6 separate regions of the Homo sapiens genome follow, and regions 1, 3, 4, 5 and 6 are each reported to be linked to region 2. The links are microRNA targets in miRTarBase. Many come from high-throughput screens and were not tested one by one. Region 2 holds a microRNA gene; each other region holds the end of a gene's coding sequence. Distances are from middle to middle.
What was found. The annotated mature microRNA hsa-miR-409-3p reads GAAUGUUGCUCGGUGAACCCCU and lies in region 2 at 2,786-2,807, shown strand. An mRNA with a match to its seed (bases 2 to 7 or 8) in the 3' UTR can be bound and repressed. Matches are read on the target gene's strand: a 7mer-m8 pairs with bases 2 to 8, a 7mer-A1 pairs with bases 2 to 7 and ends in A, and an 8mer does both.

Region 1: miRTarBase lists TMPO as a target of hsa-miR-409-3p. The part of its 3' UTR that is shown has no 7-base or 8-base seed match.
Region 3: miRTarBase lists SLC26A7 as a target of hsa-miR-409-3p. Seed matches in the 3' UTR shown: 7mer-A1 at 2,338-2,344, 7mer-A1 at 3,401-3,407 and 7mer-A1 at 3,596-3,602.
Region 4: the mRNA of DCAF5 is a reported target of hsa-miR-409-3p. Seed matches in the 3' UTR shown: 7mer-m8 at 995-1,001 and 8mer at 2,680-2,687.
Region 5: the mRNA of ZNF207 is a reported target of hsa-miR-409-3p. Seed matches in the 3' UTR shown: 7mer-A1 at 4,002-4,008.
Region 6: miRTarBase lists ELF2 as a target of hsa-miR-409-3p. Seed matches in the 3' UTR shown: 7mer-m8 at 3,171-3,177.

The regions. Positions count from the first base shown.
Region 1 is chr12:98,547,403-98,552,494 of GRCh38, reverse strand. It overlaps TMPO (thymopoietin), which reads right to left. Exons shown (of 9, transcript NM_001032283.3): 9 at 2,144-4,922. The coding sequence ends at 4,637. Among named protein-coding and RNA genes, the nearest start is that of TMPO-AS1, 34 kb to the right of the region's middle.
Region 2 is chr14:101,062,561-101,067,652 of GRCh38, forward strand. MIR409 (microRNA 409) reads left to right here and starts at 2,740; the gene lies at 2,740-2,818. It overlaps MIR541 (microRNA 541), which reads left to right and starts at 1,935; the gene lies at 1,935-2,018. MIR412 (microRNA 412) reads left to right here and starts at 2,887; the gene lies at 2,887-2,977. It overlaps MIR369 (microRNA 369), which reads left to right and starts at 3,038; the gene lies at 3,038-3,107. It also overlaps MIR410 and MIR656.
Region 3 is chr8:91,394,187-91,399,278 of GRCh38, forward strand. SLC26A7 (solute carrier family 26 member 7) reads left to right here. Exons shown (of 19, transcript NM_052832.4): 19 at 876-3,969. The coding sequence ends at 911. Among named protein-coding and RNA genes, the nearest start is that of SLC26A7, 150 kb to the left of the region's middle.
Region 4 is chr14:69,049,702-69,054,701 of GRCh38, reverse strand. DCAF5 (DDB1 and CUL4 associated factor 5) reads left to right here. Exons shown (of 9, transcript NM_003861.3): 9 at 1-3,821. The coding sequence ends at 845. Among named protein-coding and RNA genes, the nearest start is that of ACTN1-DT, 73 kb to the right of the region's middle.
Region 5 is chr17:32,368,795-32,373,872 of GRCh38, reverse strand. It overlaps ZNF207 (zinc finger protein 207), which reads right to left. Exons shown (of 12, transcript NM_001098507.2): 11 at 4,419-4,578; 12 at 1-4,274. The coding sequence ends at 4,114. Among named protein-coding and RNA genes, the nearest start is that of ZNF207, 21 kb to the right of the region's middle.
Region 6 is chr4:139,054,771-139,059,862 of GRCh38, forward strand. It overlaps ELF2 (E74 like ETS transcription factor 2), which reads right to left. Exons shown (of 10, transcript NM_001331036.3): 10 at 2,495-4,837. The coding sequence ends at 4,213. It also overlaps the pseudogene RNU6-531P. Among named protein-coding and RNA genes, the nearest start is that of NOCT, 42 kb to the left of the region's middle.

The sequences.
Region 1 (5,092 bases), not on the chromosome of region 2:
TACCCCCAGCTAATTTTGTACTTTTAGTAGACAAGGTTTCGCCATGTTGGCCAGGCTGGTCTTGAAACTCCTGACCTCAGGTGACCCACCCATCTCGGCTTCCCAAAGTGCTGGGATTACAGGCATGAGCTACCACACCCAGCGTCAGATGCTTTTAAAAAAAACAACTTCCCCAAAGAGTGCCTCAAGTTCACAGAAAATTCTAAAACTGCACCCAAGCACCGTCAACTACACATTGTTATTCACCACAGAGAAAGTATCAAATGTCTGTTGCATTAAGTGGCAAAATTTGGTAACTAATAAATTTCAATCCATTTAAAAACACTGTAAATATAGTATAAATGTTGTCGATTCAACTAATGATTCCATAATTAGGAGAACTTAACAAAACACATGGAGACCCCTTGCACTCAAACCCTATGTCTGCTCCTCTACTTTCTCCCCAAATCTTTGGTGGAAAGGATATGTGAATCCCGAAAAGCTCTCAGTGACCATCAATTCAAGGTGACAGGCTGACCACATGCTTACAGCCTATTTCTACTGAGACTTGAATACTGATAAGGGAATAAAAAAGGGTTTAACACAATGACAAAGAGGTAGAGTGAGATAGCAAAAGATACTTCAAAAAGCTGCCTGGAAGATAAAAAAAAAACAAACAAAAACAAATTAGGCCAGGGGTGGTGGCTCACGCCTGTAATCCCAGCACTTTGGGAGGATCACTTGAGGTCAGGAGTTCAAGACCAGCCTGCCCAACATGGCGAAACCCCGTCTCTACTAAAAATACAAAAATTAGCTGGGCATGGCGGCGCACCTGTAGTACCAGCTACTCGGGAAGCTGAGACAGGAGAATCACTTGAACCCTGGAGGCAGAGGTTGCAGTGAGCCAAGATGGCGCCACTGCACTCCAGCCTGGGCGACAGAGCAAGACTCTGTCAAAAAAAAAAAAAAAAAAAAAAGATTAAGAAACAGAAAAATTAGCAAAATTAAATAAGGCTTAAATTTATTATTACTGTTGTTGTTTTGAAATGGAGTCTCACTCTGTCACCCAGGCTGGAGTGTTACCTCTGCCTCCCAGGTTCGGGTCATTCTTCTGCCTCAGCCTACCGAGTAGCTGGGATTGCAGGCACCCACCACCACACCTGGCTAATTTTTGTATTTTTAGTAGAGACTAAAAATTGTCTTGCCATGTTGGCCAGGCTGCTCTTGAACTCCTGACCTCAGGTGATCTGCCTGCCTCGGCCTCCCAAAGTTCTAGAATTGTAGGTGTGAGCCACCATACCTGGCCAGAAGATTTAAATAGCCACAGAGAAAGATTAAGTGAGACCTTGTCTCAAAGAAAACAAAAACAAAAACAAGAAAAACTAGGAGTGAGCTACTTTACCCAAAAGAACGCTTCAGAGGTTTGAAACTCAGAAGGCACCACCAAAGTTGTGAAAGGAGCAGGGCTGAACACAGAACTGGTTTAAAGCATGTAAACAGAGAATTGTTTGTTTTAGGTTCCCTCTGCCATATTATATGCAACCAGAGCCATCACTTCTCAGCTGTGTGCAAACATGAAGAAGCTTCCTAACACCTCTAACCATCAGTTTCCTCATTTGTAATGATATTACGAAAATGCCTACTCCATAGGATTATCGTGAGGATTGAGTGAATCAATACATATTAAGCACATAGAAAAGTACCTAGCACATGGTAAGCATGCAATAAAACTTGTTGTTTTAAGCCTTTGATGCGATTTGCCTTATAATTAATTATGGTGTCTATACTACCTTGAGAAACACTAATTTAAGTCAAATCACCTCTGGGGACACATGAATGAGGAAGACATAATGGCACTTTCATCTTGTGAGCACAGCTCCATGACGTATCACAGTGACACGGGCTTAGTCTCAAAGCAAGACTAACAATCATAAGGGTCATAGGTAAATACTAAAGACAGTAAAAGTGGTGGGAAAAAGGAACTAGGTGTGGGAGAGGTGCCTTGGAGCGCTTAATGTCATTCTGTGAGTACAGTAGCTACACATTGCTTACCTTTGAATAAACGAGAACCCGATTACAATAAGAAGTAAAACATATGAACAGACTGAAATAAAACACAATAATCCATAAATATCACATAAGAAATGTTATCCAGAAATCACAGTTTGTGCTATCTGAAAACCATTTATTGCAACGACAAAACTAGAGGTTAATTACTTTTTATTATTGAATTATATTGTAAAGTCTACATCTACAATTTAATCAGGAAGAAATGCTTTGCATTTACATCAAGGACACATTTATTCTAATGGAATAAAACAGACACACACAAAAGACCAAGTACATGTTTTTAAAAAATGACTACATGTTTCACCTGGTCCTATTTTTGCTATTTGGACCATACTTTTAAGTGAATTGATCTTACATACATGTTAAGTCTGATTTATCTCCCCACATTTTTAAACACTAAATGAAGCTTCTCACAATTTCTAATTATAAACAAAAGGCTGAAAACAGTATGGGAAACAAAGTTTCAAAACAAAGAAAAGTTGAGTAAAAGGTGCCCCCTCTATGGCTCATCTGAAAGAAACATTTTACTCAGAGAGGCAAACATTTCTGATCTAGGAGTAAGTTTCCCACTCACTTTGCAAGGACCCACTCATTCTGCAGAAAGACCTACAAGTCTTTCTGGTCTCAATTGCAAAGTACGTGAAAATGTGTATGAAAGATCTAAAAGCTAAATATTAGAATAAGGCTAATTGAAATCAAAATTGTGTGCTGGTCTAAATATACATCTTCGGCTTCTTCCTTTTTAGTAAGTATTTTTATTTCAGATGTATTTAAAAATAACTTACATTTTTAGTGTGCTTTATGGTCAATGACTGTAAAGTTGAAACTCAAATGAGTCAGTTTAAAATTTTTGTCTCATTTGATTCTATTGAAATTTTAATCACCTACTACTTTAATCAAGTTATTCATGAGGTAAGTTTCAGCTTAAAAAAAAAAATCATCCACAAAGATAACCATTTCAAGAGTACACAAAATCATAATGCCGGCCGGGTGCAGTGGATCACACCTGTAATCCCAGCACTTTGGGAAGCTGAGGTGGGCTGATCACTTGAGGTCAGGGGTTCGAGACCAGCCTGGCCAACATGGTGAAACCCCGTCTCTGCCGAGGCAGGAAAATTGCTTGAACCTGGGAGGCAGAGGTTGCATCGAGCCCAGATCGTGCCACTGCACTACAGTCTGGGTGACAAGAGTGAGACTCCATCTCATAAAAAATAAAAAAATAAAAAATAATCATAATGCCCACCTCTTAAGAGTATACAACTTTATTAACTACTGCTTATGATGTAATATAAAAGCAAGTACTTTTTGTACTTTTTTATTTTTTTTGAGATGGAGTCTTGCTCTGTCGCCAGGCTACAGTGCAGTGACGTAATCTCTGCTCACTGCAACCTCTGCCTCCTGGGTTCAAACGATTCTCCTGCCTCAGTCTCCCTAGTAGACAGGACTACAGGCGCACATCATCACGCCCAGCTAATTTTTTTGTATTTTTAGTAGAGACGGGGTTTCACCATGTTGGCCAGGATGGTCTTGATCTCTTGACCTCGTGATCCACCCGCCCTGGCCTCCCAAAGTGCTGGGATTACAGGCGTAAGCCACCGCGCCTGGCCCTTTTTGTACTTTCTAATCAAATTATGCTGGGAAATATAGGGCAAAAAAAGCTCGGCAAAATTTGTTTCTGGTAACAAGACAATGCAATAATGAATCCAAATGAAACATAAGACCAGTGTTTACAATTTCTAACTTCTAAACAAACATACACACACTTATCTAAAACATATTTTGGTAGCAAACTGGATGACTGAATAAATGTTTTGCTGTAAATAAAAAATACAAATTTCCAATTATAGCCTTATAGCTAGCTAAACAGCTTTTCAAAACATGTACAGCTAGCCAACAATTCTCTAAAATATGTATGTTACACTAAAAGATCTCTGCTAAAAATCTACTGTATGTAAATGGGTCTTACTGAAATAGGACTTTCATGATACTGTGTCTTAAAAAGTGAGTATGATAGGGCTACAACAACATTACTATTAATAAAGGTTACAGAAGAGATTATTGCTGTACTTTTCCTCATAAACACCATCAAACTTTGTTGCAGTTACAAAAAGTACAACCAAGTTACTTTTCCTCTTACTGAATTTCATTATGTTTCACATATTTGCAGTTTTTATTCAGCAGAGAATAATTCTTAAAATCTTTTCTGTAAGAATTCTAAGTATTTAAATGTGTAGCTTCACATTATACTACCATGTTTCACCCTTCGTTTCCCAAATACACAAAAAACATATACATTTTTTCAAAAATGAAATAAGATGCCCACATTAAAAAAATAAAGCCTACAAAAAGTTCCAGAGCTAAAAAAGATTATTCATATGGCACAAAGTGATCTCCTACTAGTCCAAAGTTCAAAAACATTTTAATGAAGTCCATTTATATATATTTTGTTTGCTTTTCAATGAAATACTACATTTATTGAGGCGAAATCACATTATTTTTAGTTCTTGGAGTCAACAAGTGTACACAAATGTTTTTCAACAGTTATTGAAAATAGGAGACCAAGTTGAACGTGCCAAAGAGATACCATTCAGTTGGATTTTCTAGGGTCAACATGAAGAAAATTAGAGAAGGGATTTACTTGGTTGGTTTCCATAGCTTGATAGACCAAAAACAAAAAAACTGCCACAACAACAAACAGCAAAATTTTTATCCATACGGGAATGGAGCGTCCCTTTTTTGTCTTTTCTGACTTGACATCTGCCAAGGGAACATACTTAGGAACATATTTAGATGAAAAAGACTCCTCCATCCTGAAATCACTGAGTTCTAATGGCCGGCCTGCAGCCCCTTTGATTGGTCTGCGGCAACTAGCACTGTTGGGAGTGAAAGGAGGAAAAGAAAAATAATTTTAGATAAAGGCATGATTTAGAGAAATAACATAAAATGTCATTGCCACTCCTAATTCCAAGCACATTCCCTGAGGTAACAGTAGAAAATTGATACATATAAAGCAGTGAGGTCAGTCAACCTATTTAAAACTTCT
Region 2 (5,092 bases):
TTCTCTTTCTATCCCCCAACCAAACATTGTTCCCAATTTTCTCCTGGGTTATGAAACAAATAGAGGCTATCAGTATCTCATCCCATTTGTATTAAATAATACTGATAAAAATAATCAACACAAAATAAAACTAAAAACAGCTGAAACGGCACAGTGCTAAATGTGTTCAGTTGACTACAAATTGGCAGAGGAATCCAATTTTCTTGACAACATTTCAGCTGTGACATTTGACCTGGGGAAATAGCAAGCTGCCGACGTGGCAGCCATGGAAGGAAATTCACGGTGGCGGCGGTGATAAACAGTGATATTTGATGTAGACAAGAACACATTGAGGAATCAAATCTTCATGCAGATTTTTAAATGGAAAAAATTGATCCTAATGAAAATGATTTGGGGAAAATAACAAGGGAAATAAGAGAAATGAAAACAGCTCAACAGCGCGGTCAGGAAAGCTAAACAGGGAATTGGATTAGTATAATGGCATTGGCTCTGAAAAACACGTTTCTATGAATATCAGTGTTGGTACAATTCTTGTGAAGGTGGTTACATTTGTGCGTGTTTACAGTGGAGTTGGTGGGGTCAGTAGGAACCTAGGGTCAAAAAATGGGATACAGTCTCCCCCTTTATGCAGTTGATCTTTTCTTGCTGCCCCAAACCTTCCCGAGAGCTTCCCGGAAAGGTGTGCTGACTTCAGGCGTGACACACTGGTAAGGCGTCCTCCCGGGGATCTGGGTGCATGTTGTCCCCAGAGCATTCATACGTAAGTGACAGGCATCACCTGGTCTCCCTCCATCCCCACGGAGGGTTCTGGGTGAGACGCTGACTCCGGAGGGAAGCAGAAGTTCTACGGTCAGTGGGGTCTGGTCTTTCAGGACAGTTGCTTCTGTGAACTCAGAAAATCTGAGACAGCTCTTAGTTAATTTAGAAAGTTTATTTTGACAAGGTTGAGGATACACCCGTAACACAGCTTCAGGAAGTACTGTGGTCAAGGCACAGCTTGGCTTTATACATTTTAGGGAGACATGAGACATCATTCAGCACATGTAAGAAGTACATTGGTTTTGTCTGCAAAGGTGGGACAACTTGAAGCGAAGGCAGGAAGGAGGGAGCTTCCAGGTCACAGACAGGTGATACACAAATGATTACATTCTTTCGCGTTTCTCATGAGCCTTTCCAAAGGAGGCAAATCAGATACGCATCTGTCTCAGTGAGCAGAGGGATGACTTTGAATGGAATGAGAGGCAGGTTTATCCTGAGCAGCTTCCAGCTTGAGTTTTCCTTAGTGATTTTAGGGGCCCGAGATAACTTTCCTTTCACACTTCCAAGGCTATTGATGAACACACAGGCATCCAGGAACATTCTGGGGTTCAGTCCTTCCTCAGACTCTGCTGTTGATACCTTACATGGTTCCATGCTGGCCCCAAGGACGTGCCCTTCGTTGGTGCCGAATGTCATTTGGTCATAGAGGCTGAAAGTCATTCTGGAGTTGATGTTTCCAAGGTCAAAAACCTTGCTGGGGCTGTGGAAAGAGCTCGTTGTTTGCTGGCCTGCTTTGTTGGTGACCAGCATTGCACATGGCTTTCTTTTCAGATCAAACCCTACCTGGAGAATTTCCAGAAGCAACAGCACCCTCAGGAGGCGGCCTGCAGCCGGAGCCCTCTCCAGGGCAGGTGCCTGAGGGCCGCCCATGGGACAGGCCCGATTGTACCCACGGTGCATGTCATCTGTTCCACTCCTGCTGACTCCGGTGCGTTCCGGGACCACCTTGGGAGGTGATGCCTGCCCCAGGAAGGAGGCTCTGATGCAGGTCAGTGCCCATGGCTCCTGAAGGGAAGTCGTCTGTGACATCTTTTCTTTCTTTACAGCAGGCCTCGCATGGCTGGCCTCTTGCTCCACTTGTAGCAAGGCGCAGAGGGCTCTCTGAGCTCATGCCAACGTCAGGGAAAGGATTCTGCTGTCGGTCCCACTCCAAAGTTCACAGAATGGGTGGTGGGCACAGAATCTGGACTCTGCTTGTGGCATCCATCGTCTGGCCCGATGCTTGCTGGCTGCCCGCTCCAGGAGGCACCTTCTGGGTGTTCTCTGAGTCTGGGGAAGGTTGGGTTCTGAGGTCAGGGCTGCCCTGACCCTTGTGAAGAGAAGACATCTGTGACTCACCTGCTTTCTTCTGCTGCATTTATCCCCCCAGTCCCTTATTTTGAATGTCTCACTTGCTTTATGAGGCTAATCAGATGGTCAGCCAGCTGTTGATAACTGTGAAGTTACTCTTTGAGGGATCCTGGGGTGATGCCTCTGTGGGCTGGAGATGGTGCTGGTGAGACCGCAGGTCTGGGGTCAGCGTTGTGCCCCGTTGAGCTCCCGCCAAAGGAATCCTCTGCTGGGAGGGAGGCTCTGTGCTTGTGCAGGGGTCCCTACAGGGTCACCCCCTCTCAGGGTCTGGGAATGAAAAGCGGGTGCGAGCAGGGTTTCATTTTCATCTTTAGCAAGGTGCCCAAGGAAGGTTGCCGTCTTTTCAGTATAAGATCCTACCTGGGTCTTGCACTCAACTTCTGGGAAGAGTCTCTAGATTCATTCTGGAAGGGGTTGGAATCGTTGGACTTGGTGATTGGGAACGTCCTTGGAGAGTGTGAGGCTCTGGGCTCTGAATGCCCAGACCTTGTGCTGCCCTTGGGGGAGGGTCTTCTGCAAGCACAGCCGCCTGCAAGCATTCACCTTAGTCCGAGCATCTGAGCCTCTCCATGGTACTCGGGGAGAGGTTACCCGAGCAACTTTGCATCTGGACGACGAATGTTGCTCGGTGAACCCCTTTTCGGTATCAAATTCCACCAGGGAGGCCGTCTTGGAGGCTGGGGCACCTCGGGGAAGGACGCCGGCATCAGCACCATTCTGGGGTACGGGGATGGATGGTCGACCAGTTGGAAAGTAATTGTTTCTAATGTACTTCACCTGGTCCACTAGCCGTCCGTATCCGCTGCAGCCTGTGGGGCCTGCGGGCCGGGGAGCCGATCGCGCTTCAGCTCAGCGCCTTTCCTGGTACTTGAAGGGAGATCGACCGTGTTATATTCGCTTTATTGACTTCGAATAATACATGGTTGATCTTTTCTCAGTATCAAATCTCACCTTGGAGGACCCGTTGGAGATGAAGCCCTTTTGAGGGTAGGAGCAGGACGGGTGCTTTGGAGTCGCTGCCTCAGTGGGGCCTGGTCACCGAGAGTGGGCCGGGCAGGGGTCTCTTTCCTGTCTCTGTGTCTTCTCACCTTTGATGTCCCATCCGTCCTCAGGACTGCTTCCCGGGGGCAGCGCTGGCACCACGGGACGCGGCAGCCACGTTCTTGAGCCGATGGCACTCTGGGTACCTGAGAAGAGGTTGTCTGTGATGAGTTCGCTTTTATTAATGACGAATATAACACAGATGGCCTGTTTTCAGTACCGCTACCGCCCGGTGGTGTGCGGGCGCCACGCCTGAGGCGGGACTTTCCAGGGTACGTGAATGCATGGGCTGGTGTGACATTTGTCATCCTTTCCCCTGACCCCCGCCATTGAATCATTTTGGGAGAGCTTTCGGGGGGCCATGTGGACTTTGGGGAAGATGCTAGGGTTGTGCACTGTGGTGGGGGGCGGTCATGAAGCTGATGAGCAATGGTGACGGGGCTCAGTCTGTTTTTCATGGCCAGTGTCATCGAGGCAGAGGACACGGGGGAGCTAGTCCCGCTGGAAGGCATCCTGCTGGAAGGCCACCCACCCCTCGCCAGGATGTTGGGGGCGGCTGCATGCATTCCCTGCACCTGGGCTGCCTTCTGCTCATCTCAGTGCTGTGAGACCCTGGGTGGGAGCTGGTGCCTTGGGTGGCCGTGTGCGTGTGCTGCTCCTTGTGGTGCCTGAGGAGAGGTGGCCTGTGTTGCATTCACAGAAATCATGACACACAAGACACGAGCGGCCTCTCTTCAGTATCAGATCCCACCTGCATGATTCCTGCACCTGCTGATGTCGGGGAGGTCCGGTTGCGCGCCCTGTGGGCCCCCAGAGGCATGGCTGGTGGCCGAGCACGCGCTTGACTTCCACCTGCAGCCCTGTGCTGGCCTCCATCCTGGAGGCGGGTGGGTGGCAGGGCCCTTCCCTGTGGAAGAAGCCTCCTCCCTGGAGTCAGTGCTGCTCAGTGGTACCTGAAATAGGTTGCCTGTGAGGTGTTCACTTTCTATATGATGAATATTATACAGTCAACCTCTTTCCGATATCGAATCCCACCTTGGATGCCTTCCTCTTTGCTGTCAACTCCAGGCAGCAGCTGGCTCTGCGCTGGTTGACCCTGTGGACTTTGTGTAGGACCTGTGTCACTTGGCCTGTTAATTTTCCAGCTCCACTCTGTTCTGGGGGGCTTTGGAAGTGTGACAGAATGGCATCCCCAATTCCAGTGTCAGCGGGAGCACCCGCCATGCCCTTGCTTCCGGTTGGCACATCCCCCAGGCTGGGCTGGCTCTCAGCTACCCGATGCTTATGTCATATTTGCACCCCTGGCCTGCCCAGACTACAGGAAGATGACCAGAGGCCTGTTTGCAGCTGACCTGGAGACTTAGTGACTCCAGAACATGCTGCCCATGCCCAGGGTCCAGGGCTGAAGGCAAGGAGCACCTCAGGAGTGACCCCAAAGAATGAGCTAAGGCTGTCCTTTATCACTCATTGTTGATCAGTGAGCTCCTGGGCTCGGGAGATCTTCCTGAGCTGGGCTCCCGTCATCCCCTAGTTGAGACGTCGCTGCCTTGGAAGTCACAGCCTGTGCCTGCCCTCCCCCTTGTCCTCCTCCTCGGGACCGCTCCTCTCCATGCCTAGCATGGGAGTGGGGATCCCTGGCACCATCCCTCTGGGCTGCCTGCTCCCACTCTCCCTCAGCACCCCTCTTCCCCAGCCCCTGGGCCACAGCCCTGCTGGAGAGGCCGCCCCACAGGCTAGGTCCCTCCAGCCTGTGGCACTTGGGTCTCCCTCCAGTGCCCCTCCCTCTGCCAGGGAGAGCATTTCCAAGTGCAGAGTCCAGCTGTTTAACTCCGCTGCCCAGGGCACCTCTGCAGGCCCCTTCCCTTGGGCTTGGTACCAAAAT
Region 3 (5,092 bases), not on the chromosome of region 2:
AGGTAAAAGAATGTTTCCATTCTTTTTTTAGGCCAGTTATAAACTGTTGTTTGATAACTTGGATCTTCCAACAATGCCACCGCTCTGAGGATTGGGTGGTTGCCTATCATTTGCAAACTGCTTACTTGTACAACAAATGCTTCTTCCAGGATCTACTGTCCTGGGGACTTGAATCCACCTTTCTCAAATATAAAAACTCTAAATATGGCCTTTTAAGTTTTTTCTGCTCTGATATCTTGCCTCTAAGCTTATATTGCCATCTTTGGAAATACTATTTGTAGAATCTAGTGCTCACATGATCTGAAGTGTCAAAGTTATTTTACAAATGCTGGGCTTATGGTTTAGTTTTACAACTGTTCTTAGAGCTTTAATTTCCTGCAATTTTTCCTTGAGTTTTGAATTGTTTTGCCTTTCCTCACCCCTAGAATAACATTTGGTGCCTCGCAGAGTCATCCCTATTGTATACAATCAGAACAGTATGTATTTACAAAATAATAATAACACTATTATTATTAAATCTAACATATATTGAGTGCCCTCATTATATTCCAGGAATATTCTAAAAGCTTTACTATGTTGTTTAACTGAATTTGCCATGACCTTATGAGGTAGATATGATAATTTAACCCATTTTTAGAAACAAGGAAACTGACCAGGGAAATTACACCATCTGTAAGTGGTAGAGCTGGTTGCAGAGTCAGCAGTTTGAGTTTGGACCTGGAGCTTTGAACTGCTCTACTCTGATGCCTCATAAAAGGTTCATTTTCTTTGGCTTAGCTGGACAGCTTGCTTCAGTTACTACTGTTCTTTTACTTTGGTACCAATTTAAGAGTTGAGTAAATAGCACATACTTACTTCTTCCTCTGGTATTTCAGAATTTGAGCAAACTCAGTGACCACAGTGAAGTCTGAGACCCTTTTGTCACAGTACAGCTCTTGTCTTTACCAACTGCCTGAAGAGGCCATATGCTGGCATTTTGCACAACTTTTTGGTTGTTTAGATCCTACAGATGACCTCTGCTACAATAAGTACGATGTGACTTAGTAACTGCATAGCAGTTGGAAAGAACTGCCAACTTTTTTTTCTCATTTTTGTTAGTAAGAAGATTCGCTTAGTTATTTTATGTAAAAATCAGTATGTGTTTAGTTTTAGTGTACTGAAGGGTAAACATGGTTTTATTTTATTTTACCATATTATTTTGTGTTGTTTTATTTCTATTGTGCTGTAAGTTGATGTTTAAAATTGAGAAATACTTTTGTCATAGGTAATTTGGAACATTTACAAGCCATTTGTAAAATTTTAAGATAATCTGTAACTAATACATAAAAACAACTTAGCAAATGTGCCATTTTCACACAACTTCTCTCTGTATAGGCCTCTGAAATATCAATAAGGCTAAATATTACTTTACACAGTAAGATGTGAAATTCACAAAAAGTAAACCAAACAAAACGAATGAAAAACTGGAAATAATTCGTTTCCATATCTTTCCATACATCCATTTCTGAAGTATTCAGGAATGTTTTCATAATCGAAAGAAACGGGTATCCAAATAAAACCAAGTTCTTGACATTGGTCTGTTTTGCTGTGAATATTGGAAATGCTTAGGATCTTCAGACCCAATAGCTCTAATTTTAACATTTCTACCCAATAAGAGGCTCTGTTTTCCACTGAAGCTTTGTTGGAGAAAGAGAATATGAAAATTACACATTTTATAATTTTTAGATGAGAAAATACCACTAGCAGAATAGCTTTGTGCTATTCCAGTATAAGATGAACTGTAATAATTTTTGACTTCCCTATTTCAGAGATAGTCAATATAATATGTTTATCTATATCCATATGGATGGATAGGTAGGTAGATCTTCATAGATTTTTTTTTCTTTTGTTAGAGGAGAGCTTGATGTGATTATCTTCAAACCCACCAAACCAACAGGATAATTGACAAATAAACGCCATAGGCTAGGCTGAACTGTATGTTACTGTTTTCATGCTTATACATATATTTTCAATCACATACAAGTACATAGAATTTCACATTTTAATTTAGCAAATTGATTTACCTAGGAAAAAATTATCACCTTCAAAGATAGGCATAGACACATAATTATGCTTAAGCTTTTAACAGCATTTTAACCGCTCTAAAAATTACCAGAGTAAGAAAAAGCTAGGTACTTTAAAGTGAGTTTGAGAAACAAGTTGAAACTAAAATTAAAATACCAGCCATTTAGGTGCTTTCTCTGGCATCTATAAAAGTAAATTCTAGTGCCTGCCAAGTGATGGATTATAATGGTCTCTAGCAAATGTGTGGTAAACATTCATATGGCCATTAATTTTAACATTAAATCGTAGGTAGGGCAATGTAGTAAAATGAAAGAGAATTAAGAAAGGTTTTGAATTCTTATAACATATCCAGCCATTTCAATTTTGATTGAAATGAACTACAAAGAATAGTGTTTGTCCCTATGGTAGCCTCAGTCTCTTTATCACTAACTTGGATTGAAATGAGTGAGGCCAACTCACATTCCCATCAAACACTCTTCCAAGGAAAAGCAGAAGTAATAATTGGAGGTAAAGTTTCCTTAGAGAAAATAATTTTATTCTGCTTTGTCCAATTAAATTATTCCAATGGCGGATGGTAATATTCACCATCTCTAATTCATTGGTCACTGGTAGGTAAGCATGAGTTAAGGAAAGTCAAAAATGAAAATATATTTTGCTGTGTATAAATTGATATTTTGCTATGCAACTCCTGTAATTGAATTTGTATAATGCAGGCACTTTCTAATTTATTAGAGATTATGGATCAGTTCTGACATTAAAATCATAGTTAATTGATGGATGGTTTTTATAGTTTGTTGATAAAGTGGACACAGTATTGTCTGAGCAGTTATATTTTAATGCATTTCAGTGTTTATAGTAGAAGTTTAGTGGATAAAACTTTAAGTCCAATAACTTGGGGGTCAAATGCTAATGTTTTATTCAATGTAAAGGAAGACCAAACCATGTACCTTATGAAGACCTTTGTTTTAAGACTTCCACACACCAAGGCTACAATGACTGTTAACCTGGAGGAAGTCTCTGGTATGGAGTTCTGAGAGCTTAAGAGCTAAACATGAGTTTAGACACACAAGATTCTAAAATGCAAATGTTTATTTTGAAGCAGGCATTGACAACACAAAAACTGTGTAGTGGTCTTGATGCTGGATTGTTTCTAGAGTCACAATGAATTATTTTTATGAGATTACCTTATTTTTATATATGACAAACTACTTCTATAATGCTTATTATGGTAAAATAAAATTGGAAAAAATTAAAACTGACCTATAAGAGTGTTAAGGACCTAATAGAGTGACATATATAAATTAAGCATAAAATATGTAACCAGGAAAAGACTGTTAACATTACATTTATGCAAATTAAATGCCCTTAAATTTCACCATTTGTCTTTCATTTTAAAGGTTATTTGCTCCCGATTATATGATTCAAGTGTTATAAGTTTTAGCTTGAACTACTTTGCAGTAATTTATTTGACAGATCTCTATTCTATAAATGTGTAATGTGATGAAGAAAGAGATCTTTCTTTTTTAATGAAAACATTAATGTGTTAATACCCTGTATGGATAATGCTTGACATTTAGTGGTTTCCAAAATATATTAGTATATTGTTGAACATACATTATGCCTTAGAAATGCACATTCTGTATTTTGTGGGATGATAATCTAATTCAGTATAGAATATGCTGTTTGGCAATGAGTTTGTGGCCAGATTTCAAATAGGGAGTTAAGTGGTACTTTCACAATCCAAAGATTTTTAGTTAAAAATCATGTAGTCTAATATGCTGCAGTTATTTTTTTATATTTTTCAATGCATTTAATTATCTTTTTTATAATTCTTTGTACTAACTCAGCATGTAACAACCAATTTACATGGAAATAAATCGAAATATGATAACTATTATGCTTAAATGGATTTGCGTCTATTATTTCATAGTATTTACTCTCCTGCAAAGCAAATAATACATACTGTTTCTTGGAATGACCGCAGAGTATTATGTGTTGAATATTCCTGGAAGTATCCATTATTCTTGGTAATTTGTTCTTACAAAATCTCAACCTAGGACTGTAAGATACTGTGCCTTAATTTATGGACTGCTGATAAGAATACTTTTTGCTACAAAACTACATTTAGACATACTCTTTTACCAGATTTACATCCTTTGCATTTCAATTTTAATTAATATATACATTTTAATTTTTTATTTGCTTTGGCTCTTCATTATATACTGTTGTTTGTCTTTCCTGACTTCCTAGGCTGAATTCAATATTCTTCAGTCTATTAAAGGCTACTTTTCCAAAGACAAGAAGCGAAGGAAGTCTTCTAGGTGTTAGAGATATGGCAGATAATAAAACAGAAAAAGAATAAAAGCCCTCACAAACTTTGTTCTAACAAGGGAAGACAAAATAGAATACGTTTAAAATGCATTTATTGTAAGTTAGATGATAATATGTGCCAAAATGAAAATACATTAAGGAAAGATGACAGGAAGTATGGCAGAGGATAAAGTGTTGCCTTCCTACATAGGGTGGCAGTAAGGTGATAAATGGTAGTGTCTTAGTTCTGGCTGCTATAACAGAATACCAGACTACAGCGCTTAAACAATCAAAAGTTAATTCTTAGTTCTGGAGTCTGAGGAGTCCAACTTGAAGGTGCTAGTCAATTTGGTTTCTGGTGGGGGCTCTCTTCTTGGGTTGTAGATGGCCACCTTCAAACTATGTCCTCATATGGGGGAGAGAGAAAGAGTGAGAGAGAGAGAGCACTCTTCTTATAAGGACACTAATCTTATTGGATCAGGACCCATTCTTATGATGTTTAACCTTAATTACCTTCTTATAGGTCCTGTGTTCAAATGCAGTCACTTTGAGGGTGAGGGATTAAATTTTGGGGAAACACAATTCAGTCCACAACATTCTAGCCTTCACCAAATTCATGTCCTTATCATATGCAAAATACTTTCATTACATCCTAAGAGCCCCAAAGGTCCTGACTCATTCCAGCATCCACCCACAAGTCTAAAGTTCAAAGTTTCAT
Region 4 (5,000 bases), 32 Mb from region 2:
AAGCTTACAAGTGGCTCCGCTACTCTTATATCTCCTACTCAAATAACAAAGATGGAGAGACCTCCTTGGTGACCGGGGAGGCAGATGAAGGGAGAGCAGGAACCAGCCACAAAGACAACCCAGCCCCTTCTTCCAGTAAGGAAGCCTGTCTAAACATAGCAATGGCCCAGAGGAACCAGGACCTGCCACCTGAAGGCTGCAGCAAGGACACTTTTAAAGAAGAGACTCCTAGAACTCCCAGCAATGGCCCAGGCCATGAGCACAGCAGCCATGCTTGGGCAGAGGTGCCAGAGGGTACCTCTCAGGACACTGGCAATAGCGGCTCTGTAGAGCACCCTTTTGAAACCAAGAAGCTCAATGGAAAGGCCCTGAGCAGTCGGGCTGAGGAGCCGCCTTCTCCTCCTGTCCCCAAGGCATCTGGCTCCACTCTCAACAGCGGGTCTGGCAACTGTCCCAGGACCCAGTCTGATGACAGTGAGGAGAGGAGCCTCGAAACCATCTGTGCCAACCACAACAATGGACGCTTACACCCTCGTCCCCCTCACCCTCACAATAACGGGCAGAACTTGGGGGAGCTGGAGGTGGTGGCCTACTCTTCCCCAGGACACTCAGACACTGACCGTGATAACTCGTCCCTGACAGGGACACTCCTACACAAAGATTGTTGCGGGTCTGAAATGGCCTGTGAGACCCCCAATGCTGGAACAAGAGAGGACCCCACTGACACCCCAGCCACAGATAGTAGCAGGGCTGTTCATGGCCACAGTGGCCTCAAAAGGCAACGAATTGAATTGGAAGATACAGATTCAGAGAATTCCTCCTCAGAGAAGAAATTAAAAACATGATAAATACAAAGGGAAAACAAAAAGCTACAAAAGTAGCCTTACAAAAAAAAAAAAATTGTTTAGTGAATACAGAGGAAAGGAAAAACAAGTATTAAAGGCACATGAAACCAGGGCCTGAAATTTTGTGTCTGATGCTGCTCCCTTCTATCCAACATTCAACAACGGGTCTGAATGTCTAGCTGGCCATTGGCTTGTGCTGTGTTAAGAAAGGGGAAAAAAAAATAACCCAAGTGACTCCTTTCTAGTGAGACGTGAGCGTAGTGTGCCGCGCAAGGCTCTGTGGAAGTAAATCTTTGTTGAGACGTTCGACTTGTTCTTGTGTACGCACAATGGCACGTGTGCGCTTATTGTCTCATAAGACCTTCCTTTTAGTTCTCCATCAGAAAGGACCTATGAATTTGTACTTTTTGCCATCTCACCCTGTTTACATGCCATAGGTGTTCTGGTCTGGATGATGGGTGCCTGTTAAATCAGGTTGTGCTGCCAGTGAGTTGTAGATTTATGCTGGAAGAATGGAGAATGGAAACAGGCCTTCAGCCCATTGGCTGCGCTGGAGAGGAAAGCATGGTTCCTTTCTTAAAGAAATCTTCCATGTTTTCTCTAAGTAACACTTCTTTATTGAGCATTTAATGTGGACATACTATAAAAAAGAATTTTTAATGCTAATGAGAGGTTTAGCACTTAAGATCAGATTCAAGAGAATATAGATTCCTGATAAATTTCACTGTTTGCAAATTGAGCAGTGCTGCAACATGTACTGTATGAAGGCCATAAAATAGAGCTAGTCATGGATAACAGACTTTAACCAGTTAGGTGCTAGATCCTAAGAGGCACTCACAAGGCCAGCAGGTGCTTCCTTGGCTCCCATGATCGATCGAGGCATAGTGAAAGAAGGGCAAAGACAGCTTTCCAGAGCTTTGTGCTCAGGCTACTAAAGTAGTTGTTATAGGTGTGTTAACGAAGAAGCTTAGTGAGGAGCAGAATGTGGTACTATATTCATTTAACTCAACCCAGAACCATTGGTCAGAATTGGTGGGACTGGCATCTTCCCTCAGACTTGCAGTTGATAGAGGCTGTGGTGTTCTCACTAGACTTTGCAGAGCAGTAGGCATCTCAAGGTAACAGATTCTTATTGAGTAGGTCTATTAGGAGTCAGAAGGTGTTGGGGAGGAGTCTCTGGCTTATGACTCCTGGTTCCCATTAGTCTTAAGTCTTCTGGTTCCCATAAAAGACTCAGTTTTATTGAGGTAGATACAGGTTTAGAAGAGAAAAGAGCAACAGATTTTCAGCGTTGCAGTCACTCGGTTATCTATGAAGGGTTGTGCAAAACAGGAAGGTCTGGGAATGACCAGATATCTTGTTGGCATAAATGTTATGAAAAGGCAGAATACTGGCAAGAAATGAGGAAGAGAGAGAAAAACAATATAACTTTCTTGAGTGCAAAGGTGCTAGACAACTAGGAGCCCAGCTGGGATTGGTGTAGGGAGGGCCGAACGCTGACTAGTGTGGCCTCACTGCCCCAGGCTTCCTTTCAGAGGAAGGCCTGTCCTGCTGGAACTGGAGCCAAGGGGAGGCTGCCTATGAAGGCAGAAGATGTGGATGAATTCAGGCACTGGGGGTGGGGGGGTTATTTATAAACACAAGGTGGTTGGTTTAAGCCAAAAGGAGATACCATCCTGATAAGCTCTGTGAAAGAGAAGATGTGCCTGGTGTGTGTAATGCGGCTGGGGTATGAAAACACTGAGAAGGAGATGAAGGAGTGTGTGTAGCATGGGGGTGTGTACAACTTAACACCTGGACTTTTACTGGGGGAGTGGGAAAGTGATTCTGTAACCAACATTAGAATTACTTTGGATTTGTAATCAGATTGGTTCTATGATTTGTCTTTGACTATTCACAGATAATTGTAAATGCTGGTTTTATAAGCCCAAGTCATTTTACATTTGCTTTTCCAAAATGTATTAAATTGGAATTTTTTAATCCTTTATATACAAAAAAAATACGATCACTCAGTGTGTGTTTCTCTTCCCCTTCTTAGTCAGCACACCCAGTCCTTTATTTTATTCTATTCTATTTATTTTATTTTAATAAGTACTTAGCCTCTTCTGACTTCTCAAAGGACAATCGGATACATATCTTCCTGAAAAGAAGTAGTTAAAGTTCCCTTGGGAACTAGCTACTTGGTAGTTACAATTCCCAAATGCAGAACTTGGTCTTTTCATGTTAAAAGCCTTAATCTCATTTGGGTACTCAAAAGAGAAATCAGAGTTTATTCTGGTTAACTTGAGAAGCCAAGAAAGATCATTTTTAGCAAGTATGCCTTCCATCCTTGGCAGAGGCTTCCCAGCATCCTAGGCTCAGCTTACCGGGTGATAGGCCCCATAAGACACACACATGAGCAGGGTGAGAAATGCTTGCTTTATAGCTGCTCCACCCTCATCTCCAGAGATTTTGTGTCTATGGTTGTGGGTCTGGAAACCTGGCAGGAACCACTTCTAGAGTACCTTTGCCTAAACTCTTTTAGAATTGAGGCCCCAACTTTGATGGCACATTTAATACCCAATTTCTTCCATAATAGATATTTTTAATAGCAGGACAGATGGCACTGATTAGATCAAGAACTATTTGGAAGTGCCTCTTATGTTTTTTTCCTGCATTCTGTACATAAAGTTTTAAGTGGCAGGTCCAGATATGTAAAATCATTTCTCTCTATTTTCCAGCTGGTTTTGTTAATGATTCTCTAGGACAGCAGGTAAATGAGTTAAGTTGTTGGCTTGGGGCAAGTGAAGTTTGTGACTATGCTTGATTTAATAAGCTGAGAGTCTCTTGTTTGTCTGTCAAGGTGCCTTCCTCTGCTGAAGCCTTACCTCCTTCTCACCCAGTAACGGTTAACTCTTCTCTTGTGTATATGCAAATAAACCTATTATTCACTTCTCACGTCTTCCTCTTCTCTTCCAGGGAAGACTTGGTTGCTTAGACACCTCTCCTTTATTTCTTTTCTGTTTTAATTCTTGCCTAGTTGGAAACTTGATTGAAAGCTATGCTGAAAACTAGAAGAAAAACTGCAGTGTTCCACATCCATGACAATGGTCATTGTCACTTTTAGGTATTGGGACAAAGGTCACATCTGGACAACAAAATGCAGGGTAGGAGGAGGTATTTATTTGTTCTCCTTAACAGGTTTAAAGGGACTTAAGATAGCGAGACTCTGGAACTGATAATTTTATTAGTTGGAACAGAGGGAACAATGCAGTGAAGTGACATTACAAACAGCTCCCAAAGAAATATTTTCTGATGTTTCCAAATACCAAATTGCATTTCCTGCCTTGCTCCAGGCATGCACTGCAAACTTTTTTCTAAAAAAAAAAAAAGCAAAACTCGTATCTCCTGCCTGTAAAGCTGCCTGCTACAGTTAACTGAAAAATTCTTGCCAACCAAGGCTTGTCAGGAAAACAGACGCTTCCAAAGGAAGACTGTCCTTCCCCCATGACCTAAGCAAGACAACATGCCATGATTGAAACACCAAGGTGAAGTAAGGCTCAGTGAGTCCCAGCCTTGCAGCAGCAGGATAGTGGTTTTGAACAAACTGTGTGGTTCTCAGGTGGGATATTCCGATCTGAGTGCTAATTTGTCCTTGAGCACTCATATTGGAATTAAATTACATGAATTCAAATAGTTAAAAGTAATTTTGAATTTCTCAGTGATGCTTCTCACATGCAATAGTGCACGTGGATCGAAAACCTGTCTGAATCCTAACTGCATTTCATTGTTAGAACAGTGGTGGTAAGATGCTTCTCAGAATGGAGGCTTAGAGGCAAAGCTTAAACTTCCCTGTGCCCTGCACTTAACATTGCCTGGATAAGCAAGAGGAGTTACTCTGTTCAATTCACAACAGGATTTACTCGAATGTGCAGATGATCTAGCAGTGCTTATCTGCAAGATGGTCACGTTGTAAGGAAACAGGATATCTAATGTTTCAAAATACTGAAGTTGGGAAATGACTCCTTTGGGCTTATGGCCCAAAGCCATGAGCTTGTGGAATATTCCAGCCAAAGTACAGAATGCTAGCTTAGAAGTCTATCTGCCTTTGTTAGTTCCCCTACTAAAGCTGGGAAAGACAATAAAGCCCCTAAGATATCCAGGGGCTCACCCAGA
Region 5 (5,078 bases), not on the chromosome of region 2:
ATGATTAAACTTATCCTTGAGGTTAAATTTAATAGTTTATGGAGAAAATAAAACCAGTAAGATTTTCCTAGAAGTGAAAGTAAAAAACTTGAATGAAACATTTCTTGCCTCCAATCAAAAATATCAAATTTTGTCAATTTATTGAAGTTCAATATAGGAACACAAGCTTTACTGAAGCTGTTAATTATGTAACACACAGCAAATTACATAAAATTGCATATGAAATACTTATGTTTATTAACACCACAGTCAAACGTGAATATTAATATAGAGCCTTCTCTGCCAAAAGAGTATAAAAATCCTAAGTTTAATTAAATTTAGGGGCCTTCACCAAACTTGCTGCAAGTTTGGGGACATAAATATCCAACAGCCATAAAGCTGTGAAAGCCCCTATAAGGAATAAAATAAATCCCACTTGCCTCAGACTGAACAGGGCAACACTGAGACTCAGCCTCAGCCTGTCCTATGGCAGGGCTATAGGAAGAAGAAAATTTTAATTTTAGAAAAACAGTTCCCAATTAATTTAAAAGACATGCATTAAAATTTTTTTTTTTAAAAATCCCAATGATCAAGCAAGCAAAAGGAGCAGCTTTGTTTTTAACTATTGTCCACTACAATTCCACTCTGAGCCCGTACTTCTTTTTGTTGGGGAATCCCCCTCCCCAATTAATTAAGTTTAATTAAGGTGAGTCTAAGTTCAAAATGTAACTTAGTGGAATAGGAGTACAGTAGGAATATTTTATTCATACCTAATGGCAAATGTGTGAGACACTACTAAAATACTAAGTATTCAAATCAAGTAATTCCAGCAGCCACTCAAAAATTAATCCTTACCTGCTGTGGTCTTGTTAAACAGTATGAAAACTTATACAACAGAAACTAGTGCCAGACAAAATGTTTTCTTGTTTTTCTAAAAGGGGTGGATGTAAGGTAGAGCCAAAGTTGCCAGCCCTACTAACCTTACAGCTTCCTTAATTATGACAATCACAATGCCTGCCTGAATTATCAAGTCCCAAAAGTTGTCTTCTGTGAGGGCAGTTGGCATCCACTTTGACTCAACTTCATCTACTACTTAAGGAAGGTTGAGTCAGAGTTAATTATATGAATATAATTTGCTCCACTCATAATTCAACCACACTATGGACCCCAGAAGCATTTAGAAAAAAGGTATTTTCTAGAAGCTTAATTACGTTTGGATGCATGCAAAAATTACACTTCAAATATATTAAATGGGTACACCACCTCTGAGCCTATAGCTACAAACTCAGGAACTCATGAGCTTAAGTTTTATCTGCCAATGCCTAACACTTTCAATTAATTTTTAATTAGAATTCTATCCCATATTTAAAAGTTCCATTTTTGCCCATCAGACCTATACAGAGAGCAAAAAACCTTGCTACAAAGTATCAACCTTCTTTGCATAAAATGCAAATAAAGCTTCACATAATTTCTGAAACAGGTCTACTAACCCTATTGCAGTTTGTCAATAACCGTATACATGAAATTCCTGAGAATTTGGGAGAGCACCCCTTACTTAATTATTCTAAATTTAATCACAGCATTTTTTTTTTTTGAGACGGAGTCTCAATCTGTCGTCCAGGCTAGAGTGCAGTGGTGTGATCTCCGCTCACTGCAAGCTATGCCTCCCGGGTTCACGCCATTCTCCTGCCTCGGTCTCCAGAGTAGTTGGGACTACAGGCATCCGCAACTACGCCCAGCTAATTTTTTGTATTTTTAGTAGAAACGGGGTTTCACCGTGTTAGCCAGGATGGTCTCCATCTCCTGACCTCATGATCCACCCGCCTGGGCCTCCCAAAGTGCTGGGATTACAGGCGTGAGCCACTGCGCCCGGCCTATCACACCATTTTTATCTTAAAGACTTTCAACACAAGTTTTCCTTCAGCAGTATATTAAGTGTGCTGCCAAATCAAAGCAGCATGTATTAATTTTGAAACCATTTAGGTAAGCAGAGGTTCAGAGGGGAAAGTGGTTTGGGACTTGGCTGCTGGCAGAAAGAAATACATTACTGGCAAAATACCTGTTTTATTTTCAAACTATGAAAATTTTTGTACCACTATGGTACCACAAGCACAGGAGCCAAAATCATTGAAGCCAGATAATCAGATATTTTAATTTATTTTTTGACAGAGTCTCGCTCTGTTGCCCAGGCTGGAGTGAACATAGCTCACCGCAGCCTCGGAAGGAGGAAGAACCTCCTTCCTCAGCCTCTTGAGCAGCTGGGACCACAGACACACACTAACGCGCCTGGCTAATTTTTAAATGTTTTGTACAGATGGGGTTTTGCCATGTTGGCCAGGCTGGTCTCAAACTCCTGGACTCAAGCAATCCTCCCATCTCAGCCTTCCAGAGGGCTGGGATTACAGGCGTGAGCCACTGCACCCAGCCAATGTGAGTTAAAATAGCATTCAGCTTTATAATACTTGCAATGTTTTGCTTAAAGGTATGACTTTCATCTGTCACATAAATACGAACTCTTTTGTGATGGCTAAATCACTTTTCAATATATTTTCCTTCAAAGTTAAAGCCCTTTTTTCCATACAACTTCAGACTTCATGTGTTTTATCTATACCTTCACAGGAAAGTTATAAAGAAATGTTACCATTTTCTTAGAAGTCTTAACTTTATAATGAGAAAAACTCAACTTGAGTTCATTATATTAATACTTTGCATAGGTTATTTGATGCCTAAAAAATCATAAAACTACCCTGCAAAAGATCAGAAAAACAGATCCCAAAAAGGTCAACAAGAGCTATTATTTTAAGAGGTTGCAACACAAAATATTGAATAGCAGTCATCTCTACAGAAAAGCTCTCTGTAAGAACACAACATTCAAAATTTCCAAGGATAAATAAAAAGTTGCACAGTAAGGCTACCTAGGCTTAATAACAGAAGGTACTCAAATGAATAATGTAATCTTCCAGGAACATAATAAAAATTGCCAATTCATCTGTTAACCATCCCAACAGAGACACATTTAGATTCTCAGCATTACACTTAGAATAATATATAATAACCCATTAACAGCACAAGAAGCTATTACTGCATGCACCTAAGCTTCTAGAAGTTTGCACCTGAAAAGCTTCTGAGGTCCATGCAGTACTGAGTCTCAAAAATAATCAAAAGGAAATGAATGGGTCTGGCACTAGGCTCTAAACATCTCAGCAGGAAGGAAAAGTGTTAACATTTACATTTTAAGTATCTATGACACGTGATGTGTACTGACACCATAGAGGGTGGAAGGGTGATTATAAAGATTTCATACCCATTATGTAATGACTCATGTATCTTAAGTTTTTCTCTTAACTGAAACATTAACATACAACTCTATGCAAATTCAGTTTAAAACATGCAGCTAAGAAATAACCTACAACTCAAAGACAGAATCCAATGATATATCAAAACTGCATTGGTAACTATGAATTTTATTATGTGGACATCTACTGTGGCATGCATCTGTACAAACCTTTCAGGCAGTGGTCCACAGCTGGGTTATGAATAAAAAGGCATAAATTTTTCTCTCATTTTATTACAATGAAGTTTAACAGTACAGAAAAGTCACATGACCTTGGTGGGTCAGATTTCTTAAACCCTGCAACATGAGGAACTCTAAATACATTAAATATTGTTACACATTCAGACTTCCAATGTACAAGTACTTGGAAACAGTTACAGCCCTCACCAAGCTAGGTTGGGGACATGAAGTCCAACAGCATCTGAAATGCTGTGAAGGCAAACTTTACAAATAGCAATGTAAGCTTACAGAACTTGCCTTTACTAGGGTGGTATGTTCATGTAATTCCAGCGCCTTCACAATTTAACGAACCAAATTTACTATACTTCACTTCTAAAAACCTAGATGAAACATGAAAAAGAAGCCATACAGTATAAATTGCAACTTCAGGAAAAGTTCCTGCTTTATTATTCCAAATAATTTTTCCCATGTAAAATAAATGTCCAATAGTTCCTGGTATGTGGGAAGATAATGTTTGTTAAAGTCACAATGAAGCCTTATTGACGGAAGCTTGGCTATATAAACAGCACAAGTTGAGAAAAGGTTTAATCTCCAAACCTATTAGACTGGATGAAGTAAGATCAGTAACGGCCACCTTGCGACATTACAGGAGGTCTCATTCCCATCGGAGGTCGAGGAGGCCCACCCTGGTAAGGGGGCACCATTGGCGGTCCCTGCCCATACGGGGGCATAGCACCAGGAAGGTATCCTGGCATGCCTTGATGATGACCACCATACTGACCTAAAATCAAGAATTTCAAACACAAAAAAATAGATTGTTAACGCATTGTACTTTTAAGTGCAACGTATGCTGCAGATAAATTTAATATTTTATGCGTGAACTTAGAAAATCCACTAAATATGAAAAACATAAAAAGAGGAATACCATGAGGTGGCATTGGGGGTCTCATTCCTTGTTGCTGTGGGATGCCTGGCTGTGGTGGCATCATACCTCCAATTGGTCCAACTGGTGGATTACCGATGGGGGCCTGTCCTGGCCGAGGAAGATTACGTTGATACTTAGGTAACTGTGCCCTTCTCTCTTCCTGGGAATAAAAATAAGCGCAGGGCTAAATACTCGAATGCAGAGGCTCACCAAGCATAAAGGCATGCATCTAAAATCTTACAACGTTAAGAGTAATTTTCAAAAATTTACCCTTACATCCCAACTATTTACTTTTGCCAGACAAACCAATCCAACTACTTAAACTCTAGATACCTTAAAACTTCACCTATTTGTAAACTTGAAGCATGGCTAACAACTTTCCGGGAATTACAAATTGCTTCAACAAGAAACTATCTAATGAAGTATTGTTATTAACATTCTTTTTTTTTTTGAGACGGGGTTTCACTCATTGTCCAGGCTGGAGTGCAATGGCCTGGTCTCAGCTCACCACAACCTCCGCCTCCCGGGTTCAAGAAATTCTCCTGCCTCAGCCTCCGGAGTAGCTGGGATTACAGGCATGCACCGCCACGCCCGGCTAATTCTGTATTTTTAGGAGAGATGGGGTTTCTCCACAATGGTCAGGCTGGTCTCGAACTCCCG
Region 6 (5,092 bases), not on the chromosome of region 2:
TTATATACTTTACTCTTTCTACTCTTTAAGTTCTGAGCTAACTCACAGATCACTCCCCAACCTGAATGGTTTCCACACCTATTTCAGAAACTTTTATTTTGATGTCTGTCACCTCATATCTCAGTAAATAAAACTGAACTCCAATGTAGGTGAAGGAGGAACGAGTTGTCCAGAAAGAAGCCATCAATGGATGACTCATGAGGTATGAATGCCTAGAATATTTGGGAAAAAATGAAATATAGCCCAAGTAAGTCTAAAAGAGGAGTAGCAAGAGAATGAGGCTTGGGGAGACAGGAGGAGCCCAGATCAAAGGACTTTAATTGCTATGCTTAGGCATATCTTTTTAGCAAGAGATGCCATTGAAGAATCTGAAGCAATCACAAAGGTTCATGAGTGATGAAAGCTGCATTTAGAAAGCTCTCAACTGGTAGCCTGGAGAATGGATTAGAGAGAGACTTGGTGAGACAAAGACAGGGAGGATGGAAAAGAAAGTATTTAGAAGGTACTATGAGTAGAAATTTGGTTAATGATTAGAGGAGGTAAAGTATCTAGGATGGCCCCCAGGTTGCTTCTAGTATGAGTAATGGGTTGCTGGTATTATTTATTGGGCTAAGAGAAACAGATTTTGGAGGGAAGAGAGCTCAAATGGATACTCAGGAAGAAACAGCCAGTGGCAATTAGATAAACCCACCTAAGATACAGTAGTGCCTGCTTCAGCAGCACATATCCTAATACTGGAACGATACACAGATTAACACAGCCCCTGCACAAGGATGACACGCAATTTCATGAAGCATTCCAACAGAGAAAAAAAATGACAGCATAAAAGTCTAGGCTTTAACAATAGATTTGGTAGTAAAAACCATAGGCATGGGTGAGATTATCTAACAATTATGTTAGTGAAATAATAGTAAACGTCTAATAAGAGTGTTTTCTATGTGCCAGACACTAGTTACAAATCCTTAATATATTAACTCATTTAATCCTGACAACAATTCTATGAGGAAAAGAAGAAAGAAGCCCATAGGCAGAAAGAACAAAGAAAAAACAAGTTGGTTAGGCAGGAAGTAAACATGGGAAACCAAGTAAGTTTTGAGAAGTAGGCCATGAGATTAAGTGAACCAAAGTGTCCGTTTAATTTGACAGTTGGGTTACTGGAGATCTCATGGAGAACTGTTTCTAAGCAAGAATTCAGACTGCAGGCTATTTGAAGAAAAAGAAGGGACAGAAAGATAGGCTATTAATTGTTGGAGCAAGGAGACCAAGTAGGTGTGAAAGGGAGATGCTGGGCACAGGAGGAAGGGCACCTCCTTCCTGAGACAGGTGGTAAGGATGGATGTTGGAGTAACTAAATCATCTGTAACAAGGGGTCCAGGAATGGAGAGAATTCACAGCTCATGACCATGTTCTCTGTAGAGGTATACTGGTTATCTGGTGACAAGGGTGGTGAAGGCTGGAATTGATGCTGGAAAGTGGCCTAAAGAATAAATTGATAGACTACTGATCATAATTTAAAGATCTAGTGAGGCTGGAAAATGTAGTAGCATCAAGCCAAGGTTATGTGGGGTTTTTTCCCTCTAATACACTGGACACAAAAAAGCAACTATAAATTATATTGATTTATAGTTTGGAAGGGCTGAGATTAAAAGCCATAGCATTAAAAGGGCAGGAAGGATGGGGGTGAGGCACATCATTAATTTCAATCTGCAACATTCTGATCAGTATATACTGTCAACATGTATGTTTCCAAGTCTAGACTTTTTTTTTGAGACAGAATCTCGCTGTCACCCAGGCTGAAGGGAGTGCAGTGGCATCATCTTGGCTCACTGCAACCTCCACCTCCCAGATTCAAGAGATTCTTGTGCCTCAGACTCCTGAGGAGCTGGGATTACAAACATTGCACCACCACTCCCGGATAATTTTTGTATTTTTAGTAGAGACGGGGTTTCACCATGTTGGCCAGGCTGGTCTCAAACTCTTGGCCTCAAGCAATCCACCCACCTTGGCTCCCAAAGTTCTGGGATTACAGGCGTGAGCCACCGCACCTGGCTCCAAGTCTAGACTTTAGATGTGCTTATTCTCAAAGAGAAAAAAATTTCCAGTAGAGTAGCAGAGGTAGCTAGATAGCCCTGGTTTAACCCTGTTAGAACCGATTAAGAATCCAGCATAGAAGCAAAGTATTTAAGCATGTGACTTATATTCTCAGCAAATGTTCCCAAAATCAATAAATGTCTGACCTGAGTGTCTAATATGCTCAGCACTTGGGGAGAGGGGTAGGTATGGCATAAAATATAATCGTTGCTCTAAATGAGTATTATGGAAGACATGACAAACAAATGAAGTCACAGTGCAATAAACAAGATAATACAATTAAGTGCCAAAGCACTTAATATTGATTTTCAAAGCTGAAATATTTTGGAAATGTTTTAAAAGGAGACAGAATTTGAGAGTAACTCCCAAATGGGAAAATAATCAAGTGAGTTTTTCTTTGAGCTTTTGTATAAAAGTATCATCAATATATTTATGGAAAAGTTTAAAAGATTACAAAGGGAACTGTTATAAACAATTTCTGACCTAAGTAGTATGTGATCAATTAAAAGACAAAAAATATTATGTATGAGTTCATCTACATTTCTAAAACATGTAAAAATAGATAACTTTTCTTTGTAGTAGAAAGAGCATTAAGATATGGAGTGACAGACAGTAGTAAAATTACATAGTTTATGTAATCCTTCAGATACCTTAACTTCCTAATCTGTAAAAGGGCTAGAAGAGTAATTGTTCTTTTTAATCCACAAAAGGTCTGATTGTGAAACAAATGGTTTAAAGTGTTTTACAAATATAAATTCTTTAAGTGCAGCCAACTAAAATACTAAATTCATTACGTTAAGCAGAACATTATAGTTCATCATAATTAGAAAGAAACTGGCAACATGCAGATATTTGCCAAATATTAATATAATGGAAGTAGAATTTCTTCATGCAGTAGTTGGGAAGGAGAAGAGAGATGTTTTATCACTTCCTAACTAAAACACTTCTATACTGACTTTTAAATATTGTTTAAAATATCACCAGAGACCAAAACAGAAGATAAATTTCATTTCTATATTTCAGAAAACCTACTTGAATACACTTTGAAACAAGAGTACAACAAAATAGAATATACTTCAAATGTTGAATATACAAACTATTATAGTTCAAAACTGAACACTGGTATTTCCCTCATAAACTTCAACTAAAAAAAAGAAAAAAAAACAAAGAAAACTCCAGGTATTAGAGCTACCTGCCAAAAATTCATGCTGAGCCTGAACTTCCAAGTGACAGCAGAACTGAAAATGGTATGTCTGCACAAATGCCAAGGCTAAGTGAGTGACACAGGCATGTTACAGCAAAAGGCCAGAGCCAACTGTTAATTTGTCCACAATTAAGAAACTGACAGACTTAAACTACCATATAAAATGTTACATGTATATTCTATAACAATACTGTGCTAGGTACAAGATTTTTAAAATTTTTCTTTTAATAAAAAAGCTTTACACAAACAAGCCATTAGCTTATTTCAAGAAAGAAAATCGAAAATTAGTCTAAGGCCTTTGTTTTAAATCAGCTTAAGCTATATGATATATATATATGTATGTATATATATATATATATATATATAAAATCGCACTAGATCTTTTTTTGCTATCCTCTTTCTGAAGTTTTTGGGATCCATTCTTCAATTCACATTCTAAAATACCTATATTAGCAGAGTCTTCACATAGCACCAGTTAAGTGAGAACTGTGCGAACACAGTAATAATTGCTGGTATGCATATAAAATGCATCAAAAATTGCTATATGTAACAATGAGATTACCCATCCCAACCCCTCCCACTGAAAACTATATAACCTCTTACAGAATGTTAGTGTTCCAAGTCTTAGTGTAACTTGATATCGTAGTGAGCTGCTTGGTCCCTTTCGATCCTTTTTCTTATTGATGGGTTCAGTTGTTTCCTACTGTAAGAGGCAGTTTTCTGTCAGCATCTCAATATGTAGTTCATTTCCCACTGAAACATGGGATAGGTAATTTATTTCCAGTAAGTCTGATTGTTTTTGTATATGCATTAAAAATGTTTTAAAGTCTTCTTTGACTTTTCTTGATGACTTCCCTTGCAAATGTTTATGTCAGTACTGCCACTAACAGCCTGAAGTCCATGGTGGAGCTGCTATTTTATTTCTCACATGTCACTAGTCCTTCTGTTTTCATAGTTACAGGAAGGGCAATAGCTGAAGGCGCACTGACAACCACTACGTGGGTCACTGTCTTATTTCCATCTGCTGGTTTTTCTTCTACTAGCTGCAAAGTTTTCACATCATGTTCTTGCTTTTTTGCCACTGCTTCCGATTTAACCTCTGGCCCCTTTATGACTGCACTGATAACTCGAGGAGGAGTCTGGCCAGATGCCTGCTGAGTAGGCATTGATAGTCTCATTACAGGTGTACCATGGGCTATTGAAACAGGGGTAAGTGCTCTCACAGCCAATGGGGTTCCAACAATGTTAATGCTTCCTGATCCAGTCAGATTTGACTTTGTCTGCAGTTGACACTGTGCAAGCTGTGTAGCTGGGATGGTAATAATTTTGGCAGGCTGCATGGTGATTTTGTCTCCATTTTCAGTAGAAGCTGGCATCACAGTAGGGATTGTCTGAATGACTACCTTTGGAGAGGTCGCTGTTGTTGGACTAGTGCTGGTTATTAATGGTGCACCTGCATTAACTGACTGAACTGCCACAGTTGAAATTTTCTGACCCAATGATGTCATTACAACAGGTACCTGCATTGCCACACGAACTGTCCTAGTACATTAGAAAGAAAAAAGCTGATTATATTTAATGCCAACTGAGAAAATAGGTCTCCTGAGTAAAAGATTAATACAAATCCAAAATGTGTAAAATTAGTGCTCCCAAATTTTACAGAGGTACTGGCAATCCCTGATGTTTGACACAAACATACCATGATATATTTTAAAAACTAAAGCCTACATTAAGCTCCATCTATAAAACCATAAAAACCAATTCAGGTTATTTAAGACATCTACTTTTTTTTTTTTT